Regions from separate parts of the Homo sapiens genome. Here region 2 is linked to region 1. A link means that fine-mapping ties the variant in region 1 to the expression of a gene that starts in the linked region. Tissue or cell type: whole blood. Region 1 holds a variant in brackets; the other region holds the start of a gene. All regions are shown on one strand. Distances are between the middles of the regions.

Region 1 (4,306 bases):
CCTGGCTGATGGCTCTTAGAAGACACAAACTTATGGCACAGATGACTTCTTCTGGTTCTAACTTGTGTTATCTCTTTTTCAAAAGTTAGTTAAATTCTCCATATATTTTAGTGTTGTTCTATTGGCTAGAAAGACAAAACAAGGGGAATCTGGCAAATGTAAAAAAAAAAAAAAAATGCTCAGCTGACCCAGCACGTGGAATTGCATTTACTAATTTAGGCTATTTTATATAGTGGAATAACATATTTGCAAAATGATGATAGTACCTTGAGTTTACCTAGCCTTTTTTTGGCCAAGGAACTGAAGGTGTTTTCAGTCCATAACCTGATTTCATTTCTAATTTACACTGATCTAAGAGGTATCACGTATGCTTCTCTTCATGTGATAGCTAGGCAAATGAAGACACAAACATTTCTTCCTCATATACACAAGAGATGTGGATGGTAAAAGACTGAAATGGAGGGTCTCCTGGCTTCCTGAGTAGAATTCTACCAAATTGTTCCTGAAGTTATTAACCACATTTGCCCCAATATCTGTTGACAGATAGAACAGCTGTGGGTAAACTGAACTTATCTGAAAGAAATGTGTATTATACATTACACAAGTGCATTACAACTGCAACTGTCCAAGAGCCTGGTGAGTTTCTCATCCCTTCAACTAGACCATCAGTGACTTGGGAGCTCTATTCTACACAAGGCCACTTTCCTCCCTTTAGAGGAAAAGTGTTCTATTAGGTAGGGTAGGACGCTGGGCCAAAAGGGATTAAAATTGTGTTCCTGTTACCTATTGCTAACTAGCAAACCACACCAAAACTTGACGGCTTAAACAACCATTATTTGATTATATCTGTGATTTTGTTCAAGCAGGGCTCAGCTGAGTGATTCTTCTATTCCATGTAGCGTCGACTCTGGTCCCTTGCTGTTAGTCAGTCAATGGCTGCTCTGATCTGGAGGATCCAATATGGCTTCACTCACCTTCCTGGCACCTTGGCAAGGATGCCTGGAAGACTGAGCTCCCCACTGGGCCTGTCTGCCTCTCCATGGAGCCTTGGAGCCATTCCATGTGGTTTCTCCATTAGGGTACTCATATTTCTTACAGGGAAGCCCAGGGTTCCAAGAGACCAAGGCCAAAACTGTTAGTCATATTAAGCACTAGGTTTGGAAATGGCATAATATCACTCCCATATTCAAAATCACTCCCATACTTGATTGGTCCAAGCAGTTATAGGCAACTCACCTTTAAAAGTGGTGGACGCAGGTTGTGGAATAGACACATCTGTCCATGGAAGAAGGATCAAAGAATTTGTGGTCATTTTTAATCTACCACATATGGTGTATACCTCTGTGGTTTGCTGAGGTTTTTGAAATCTTTTTTTTTTTTAATACACCTAAGACTTCATTTTAAGTGCATCTTAGTTTTGCCAGAATTTGAAGCACTTTGGGAATGGCTTGCTCCGTTTTTACATTATACAAACATACACACACATATATATGTTTTTCCACTAAGAAATGCCTCTATTCACAGGGGCATTGTTTAGTTACTTCTATCCTCATTCTGTCCTTTCAGTTCAATAAATTATCTGTTTGGTTTTATTTTCTTCTTGCAAGGAAGGATAAAACTTGAGGACTGTTTGTAAAAATGAATACAATTTGGTCTCTGTCATGGAGGAACTGAGTCTAGGGGGGTGGACCCTCATAGATATGGATAACTGGAGAACAAAAGTTTAAATAATAAACTTGAGAAAGGCATAGACACATGAGTGGAGGCTTGAGTCAGCAGAGGAAATCC[G/A]GGAACGTTGCAGAGAGGAAGTGGCACTGGGGCTAAGCCTTGAAGGAGACAGTGATCTCTACAGATGGGAGGGGGTGGAGTGGGGCTGGCATCCCGGAGGAGTGGCAGTGAGAGTCCATGCACCAGAGCAGATGGCATGCTCCACTCACAATGACTGGGTGCCTGGAACGTGGGGGCTGCGGTCGTTCAAGGGGCAGGGGTGGGGTGGTCATGGGGGAGTTGAGGCTGAACAGATGGGTTGGGGACACGTGGACTTTCTCTGAATGCAGATTTGTTCTGAATGTTATCACCATAGGAGGATTTGTGACAGGGAGTGCCATGATCAAATTTCTGATTTTTGAATGTTGTTTGTAATAGCAGGTTTGGGATGGTTTGAAGGAGTAGTAGACAAAAGGCTGAAAACCCTGTCGGAGAGCAGTAGTCCAGGAGAGATGAAACTGAGTGATAGAATGGAAAAGAAAGGTTTTGAGAGGTGTGTTGGGGAAGGGAGGTTGGAGAAATAACTTTCTGATTGCCAAACATGTGTTCAGACATTCTGCTCATCCTTTATCTAATTTAATTTTCACCAAAATCCATTTTTCATATGCAGTAACTGAGGCTTTGAGATGTTTAAAAACCTCCTAGCTAGAAGTGAATAGGATTGAGATTCAGAGCCAAGCATGTTTGGCTACAAACTGTCTATGATTTCCCATGAAACCTTGCCTTACCCACTGAAAATAACTCCAGGCGGGAGGATTGCTGGAACCCAGGAGTTCGAGACTGCAGTGAGCTATGATGGTGCCACTGTATTCCAGTCTGGGTGGCAGAGTGAGACCCTGTCTCTAAAAACAAAGACAGAAAGAAAGAAAAAAAAGAAAATAGCTACAGATTTCTTACTTGTGAGACTGGGTGGATGCTTGTGTCAGTAACAAAATTAAGAACTCAGTATTTTGCTTAAGGCTTTTAAAAAAGTTTTGCTCCTGAGTTGTTTGTGTGCACGTGTGTGTGTGTGTGTGTGTGTGTGTGTGTGATATACTTCCAATGTGAACAGAGTTTTATGAACACTTAAAAGTTTTTAGCTAGTGTCTATCAATTCTATCAACAGGAATGTAACAGATCAAAAAGTACTGTAAAACATACAATTCATGTCAATTTTACTGTCCTTATTTTTTTGTGCATAAATTATTCTTGGCCTCATAACTGATTTTATTGCACATTACAATCTTGTAAACAAAGAGCCTATTGTACCACATCTGGAACAGACCGAGACATCAAGGGAGGGCTGGGAAGCAATGGGGAGGAAAAGTAAAAATGAGTCAGAGAAACAATGTAGCAGTTCATGTGGGAACTTCCTCTGAATAGAGGGTATCCCTCCCCCACCTCAAAATAAGTCACCTTTCTCATTTTAAGAGCAAAAAGGCAAGAGAGACAGCAACCTATGTCTCTTAAGTTCTATTTCTGTCTAAACCCTGGAGGCCAGGGTGTGGGTGGCTCCAGGGCTCTGCTTTTGGGTCCCCAGGTGAATAGCCCGATGCAGACCAGTAGCCACATGGCCTTTGTGCCCAGGACTCATGGGCAGCGTGAATCTCACTTGAAAATTCAATCCTTGGTGCAGAGCACCATGAGATATTGAAAATAATGGTGTTTGGCATTGGTACTGCGTCCAGTTGGTTTCATTTTCACAGGCTTTCAGAGCCCCTGAGAAGTCCTGGTGATGATACGGGAAGGATAAGAAAGGGGGAATCTGGCTTCTCCCTTTGGTTGGTGAGGCTCTGTGTTTACAACACAGCCTGGCGTATACGAGGTGCTCAATAAATATTTACTAAATGCATGATTGCTTGAATGCCATGTGCCAGCTTCTGTTAAGTGCTTGCCAGCTGATATTTCACTTAATCTTCATAAAAAATGATGAAACCTAGTTCCCCATTACACAGATGAAGAAAACAAGGTCTAGAGAAATAATTTGCCCAAGGACGTGCGCATTGTATGTAATAGAGCTCGGATTCAAAAAACCTTTGCCCTTTTGAGCATACTGCGAATATTTTGAGTGAACTACAAATGTTCTTTATCACAATATTGTTTGGGTATAAATAAACACACTTCACATATGCAAAATAGAAGTTCTCCCAGTTTTTGAAAATGTGAGAACTCTTAAGAACTCCCTGGACCGAGCACATAATTAATAGGTGTTCAGTAAATGTTGAATAAATGAACGATAGCTTATTCTCTCTATTCTAATACTTCGTAGTGGAGAAAAACGTGGAGGACTTGAAGGCTTTTAGCTTTTAATAAAAATGCTCTTTTCAAGACAGGTTTCTTAATACAGGCAGGTTGACAAAAATGCCAAGCCAGTCAGTGATAGCTGGTTCATGCCCTCTATCCTATGCCAGTTTGGAAATATTTGGTGGAAACACAGTATTGGAAATATTGTGGTAACTTTTCCCATCTGGTTAAAAGTCTTCACTTCCCTCTTGTCACCACGAAGGAACGTGAGCTTGGAGATGAGGTTGTGAAATTTCCAGTTTTGCAGGTATGGTCA
Region 2 (4,482 bases), 55 kb before region 1:
AGAGCTTCATTTGTCATTGGGGAACTCTGTGGTAAAACCACAAAGTGTGCTGTCCCACCTGCTGGTTCCCCAAAGGGAAGGATGCAAATTCTTGTGTCTTTTTGGTTTCCCTTCATGGTAGGAGAGGTAAACAGCTTGAAGGGAATACATGGTGCTGCTATTGTTGTCATTTTTTCCCCAGAATGAGAAACTCTCAATGAATAATTAAATTCTGAGTCACAGGAAAAAGCTAAAATGAGAACCCAAGTCTCAAAAACTAAAGACCCAGTGCTTAAGACCCTCAAATTTGTTGCCTCTGTAAATCAAACTGCAGTCTTTTGTGGGTGATGGAGGCAAGTGAAGGAGGAGGGATAACAATTAAACTACAGTGTGGCCAGGCGCAGTGGCTCACACCTGTAATCCCAGCACTTTGGGAGGCCAAGGCAGGTGGATCATCTGAGGTCAGTAGTTTCAGACCAGCCTGGCCAACATGGTGAAACCCCGTCTCTACTAAAAATACAAAAATTAGCCAGGTGTGGTGGCGTGCACCTGTAATCCCAGCTACCCAGGAGGCTCAGCCAGGAGAATCACTGGAACCCGGGAGGCAGAGGTTGCAGTGAGCCAAGATGGCGCCACTGCACTCCAGCCTAGGCAACAGAGCAAGACTCTGTCTCAAAAAAAAAAAAAAAAAAAAGAATTAAACTACGGTGAAGAGAGAGCAAAGCGAATGCAGAGTCATAGCTTCCCCTCTGTGGCGAAGCCATGTGTTTCCTGAGTTAATAGAGATATTATTTAGTGAATATGTGAAAAAGATAAAGGCCACTTTGCTACCTCTTTTTCTAATTTCTTAAAATTCTCTACATATTTTCAGAATCTGAACGGGCTCTTTTGCTACAGACGTAGTCCAGTTAAATTTTCTGACTGAGACTTGAAGAAGGGCAGTTTGATACAGAAATTTGTATATTAACTAAATAGCCTTCAGAAAAAGTGTGGCAACTTCAATGAAATATACACTCTCTTAAGTTGGTTTTACTGCTTAGAAGTAGCCTCACACCGTATTAAATATTTTGCTGCCCATTTTGCCATATATCCAGTGAATATTAAAAATATCGTTCACTATATAGAACTGATTAATTGAAGAAAAATATAGCTTCTTATCGCTGACATTATGAGGTTAGAAATAGCATCCTGTGCTAATCTGCAATGCCAAGAAATGAAGATGGTTTAAATCAGATCTCATGACTAATGCATAAGATCCAAAGTTCTTTTATTCCTGGCTATTTTAGAAAACTGGGGTGTATTTTTACCCTAAAAACTAATTCTTAAGATTTATTGAAATAATACAAAATGACTTATAATTAACATCTCACAATCAAGATTTATAGTTTACTGATTATTAGAGAAATAATAATTTCTCCATCTTAATTTTTAAAAATATGTATATGCAATGGTTTAAGTCCATATTCAAGAATATTTGATCCTTAGTTGTTATTTTTGTTTTTAGATAATATCGGGAAAGATAATGTGCTTTAATAAAATGGAAAGTTTAGATTGATTTCTGCAGTTGCTAGTCCATTTTAATTGTACTTATTGTGAATTCATTGAAATGGAAAGAAATATATCCAGCAATAAAGTAGGCCTGTTATTTTTGCTTGTTTTTGTTTTGGTCATGACAAACTGTGAAATGCTGTGTTTTTTCTATAGTTCTAGTCTATGAAATCTGCAATCTTTCCACTTGATTTACGAAGGACCTTAATTACTGCTGTCATTAGCACCTAGTGTTCAAAACAGTCTGTTTAAATGTACTGTTAGTCTCACCTCCAAGTCCCTGCTTGCTTTATTTTTTTCCAAGGGTAAGTAAAACAATAATTGACTTAGTAACAACAATCATTATGTACAGTGAGTTAAATATTACACATTTTTGATGCCTATTTCTATTTATTTAGAATTTGGTATTTGTGTGTTCAGTCTGGCCTAGACTTGGAACAAGTGTCCGTAAGTAGCGCTGTTACTAGCGCAGACTTATTACCTGGGTTTTAAAAACAAGTCACTCATTTGCCTTTTTCTTTCCACATGGATAGGGATGACAGACAACTGCTGTAAAGCTTCAATGTTTCTGCCTGGTCATGCACAGTTCTGCAATATAATGCATAAATGTATAACAACAACTTGGGATCGCTTGATACTTTCCTTGGAATAAGGAAACCCTACCAGGCGCGTCCCCGCGCACGCGCGCGCGCATACACAGACACACACACTCACACACGCTCTCACGCACACACACAGGTCAAAAGTTGATTTATTTCTGAGATCCCCCCAGAATCTTTCTTCTCTCCGTCGCCGACGGCTCTGGGCTTCTCGGCGGGGCGGTAGTGTGGTTGGGGGCGTAGGAGGGGCGCCGGGCGCCGAGGCGACGGAGACGGGAGCCGGGTGCTGGTGCGTGCCGCGCCCGCTCCTGCCGGGTGAGAGTCCGGGCCGGGTTTTGCGCCGTGTCCGCGGGCCTGTCTCACGGCCTCCAGCCGCCGCCGCTGCCGTGTTTACTGAGCTCGCGCGTCCTGATATCACTCCGCTGGCATGGAGGAGGAGGAGGAGGTGGAGGAGCGAGAGGAGGAGGAGGAGGCGGCGGCGGCGGCGGCGGCGAGCAGTTGATCATTGTGATGGTGGCAGGAGCAGCGGCGGCAGCGGCAGCCCAGCCGAGCGTTAGGTGCTGCTCTCTGCGCGGCGTTTTGCAAAGGACTTCACCGATCTACTTTTGCAGTCGCCTCGGACTGTCCATGTGTTTACTTCCCCCAGCCCGAGGATTCGATATCTAGGTTCCTGTGAAATGCAACTGAGCAGCCAAAGTACTTTGAGAACACGGGGCGGCATAAACACCAAAACTTTTTTGTGGAAGGAAAATGCAATAAGCAAGCTTGCCGTTTTCCGATGCGGTGTGGAGTGAGTGTGTGTCGCGCGTGTCCGCACTGGAGGCATATGCTTGTGTGTGTACATGGGGTGTGTTTTTCGGTATGTAGGGAGAAAATGCTTGCCAACCACCGGAAATCTCCTGGAATTTATTAGAAAATAATGGATTATAAAAAGAAGGCAAGCAAGGAGCGGATCTCCCCTTGAGTTGCAACCCGATTTGCTGCTGGCTCAGTTTGTTGTGATTCTTTTTGTTGATAGGTGTCTGATGGTATTCCGATAACGTTCCCCCCTTTTCTTCCCCTTGAGCTTTTACAGTTTAAAAAAAGGAAACAAAAACCACCCCAAAATCTCCCCCCCCGTTTTTTTCGCCCCGTCGGGATCGCCGTTTCCATCCATGTGCTTGCGTCTCCCCCGCGTTCCACTTAAACTATTTTAATCCTTGGACCCAAGGAGGAGGCTGATAGGGGGGTGGATAAAAAAAGTTCTTCCAAAATAGTGTGCCCGGGGAGCAGGATGGGGGATTTCGCAGCCCCCGCTGCTGCCGCGAATGGCAGTAGTATTTGCATCAACAGTAGCCTGAACAGCAGCCTCGGCGGGGCCGGGATCGGTGTGAATAATACTCCCAATAGTACTCCCGCTGCTCCGAGTAGCAATCACCCGGCAGCCGGTGGATGCGGCGGCTCCGGGGGCCCCGGCGGCGGTTCGGCGGCCGTTCCCAAGCACAGCACCGTGGTGGAGCGGCTCCGCCAGCGCATCGAGGGCTGCCGTCGGCACCACGTCAACTGCGAGAACAGGTACCAGCAGGCTCAGGTGGAGCAGCTGGAGCTGGAGCGCCGGGACACCGTGAGCCTCTACCAGCGGACCCTGGAGCAGAGGGCCAAGAAATCGGGCGCCGGCACCGGCAAACAGCAGCACCCGAGCAAACCCCAGCAAGATGCGGAGGCTGCCTCGGCGGAGCAGAGGAACCACACGCTGATCATGGTGAGGGCGCACGGGCAGCGGGCTTGCGGCGCGCGTTGGGGGTGGTGGTGGTGGTGGGGGGCGCGTGGAGCTTCTTACATGGGGGTACAAGGGTCTGATTTGCACGGTGGGTGAGGTGGGCTGAAGCCTAAGGGTTAACGTCAACTTTTCTTAGGGAAAAAGCTGCCGTCGTCGCTACCTGTTAATCTGTCAGGGTTGTCAGATTTGGGGAGGAGGGGGCGAGAGGGGAGAAGCCAGTCACGACTGCGAGGGGCGGAGGGAGCCTAGAGGAGCGTCGGAGTGAGGTGCTGGAAAAGTTTCCCCCCTTCCCTTTCTTAAGATACCGATTTGAAAGAGTGAACCCCTGAGTTGAAACCTTGCTCCTCCTCTTCGCCGCTCCCCACCCCACCTCTAGCCGCGCCGCCTCGCCTCCCCAGACCCGTCCCCCTACGCCCACCCCTCTCAGCACATCCGCCGGGTGCGTGGAAATATTGATGCTGTCGCAGGTTCTGGGCGGGCACCAGGCCCTCAACCCCTAGGGGGGAAGCGGGGAAGGAGAGCCTCTCGCCTCCTCTCCCCAGCTCACCCCCTTTGGGCTGAGAAAGTCTGAGAGTTTTGTGAATGAACTTTGAAGTG

The links.
Region 2: it holds the start of MAML3, and the variant in region 1 is fine-mapped to the expression of MAML3 in whole blood (INTERVAL, PIP 0.97).

What each region holds. Positions count from the first base shown.
Region 1 is chr4:140,097,721-140,102,026 of GRCh38, reverse strand. All of the region lies in intron 1 of MAML3 (mastermind like transcriptional coactivator 3), which reads left to right. Among named protein-coding and RNA genes, the nearest start is that of MAML3-AS1, 28 kb to the left of the region's middle. The variant G/A (reference allele first, on the strand shown) is at 1,789.
Region 2 is chr4:140,152,245-140,156,726 of GRCh38, reverse strand. MAML3 (mastermind like transcriptional coactivator 3) reads left to right here and starts at 2,543. Exons shown (of 5, transcript NM_018717.5): 1 at 2,543-3,867. The coding sequence starts at 3,400.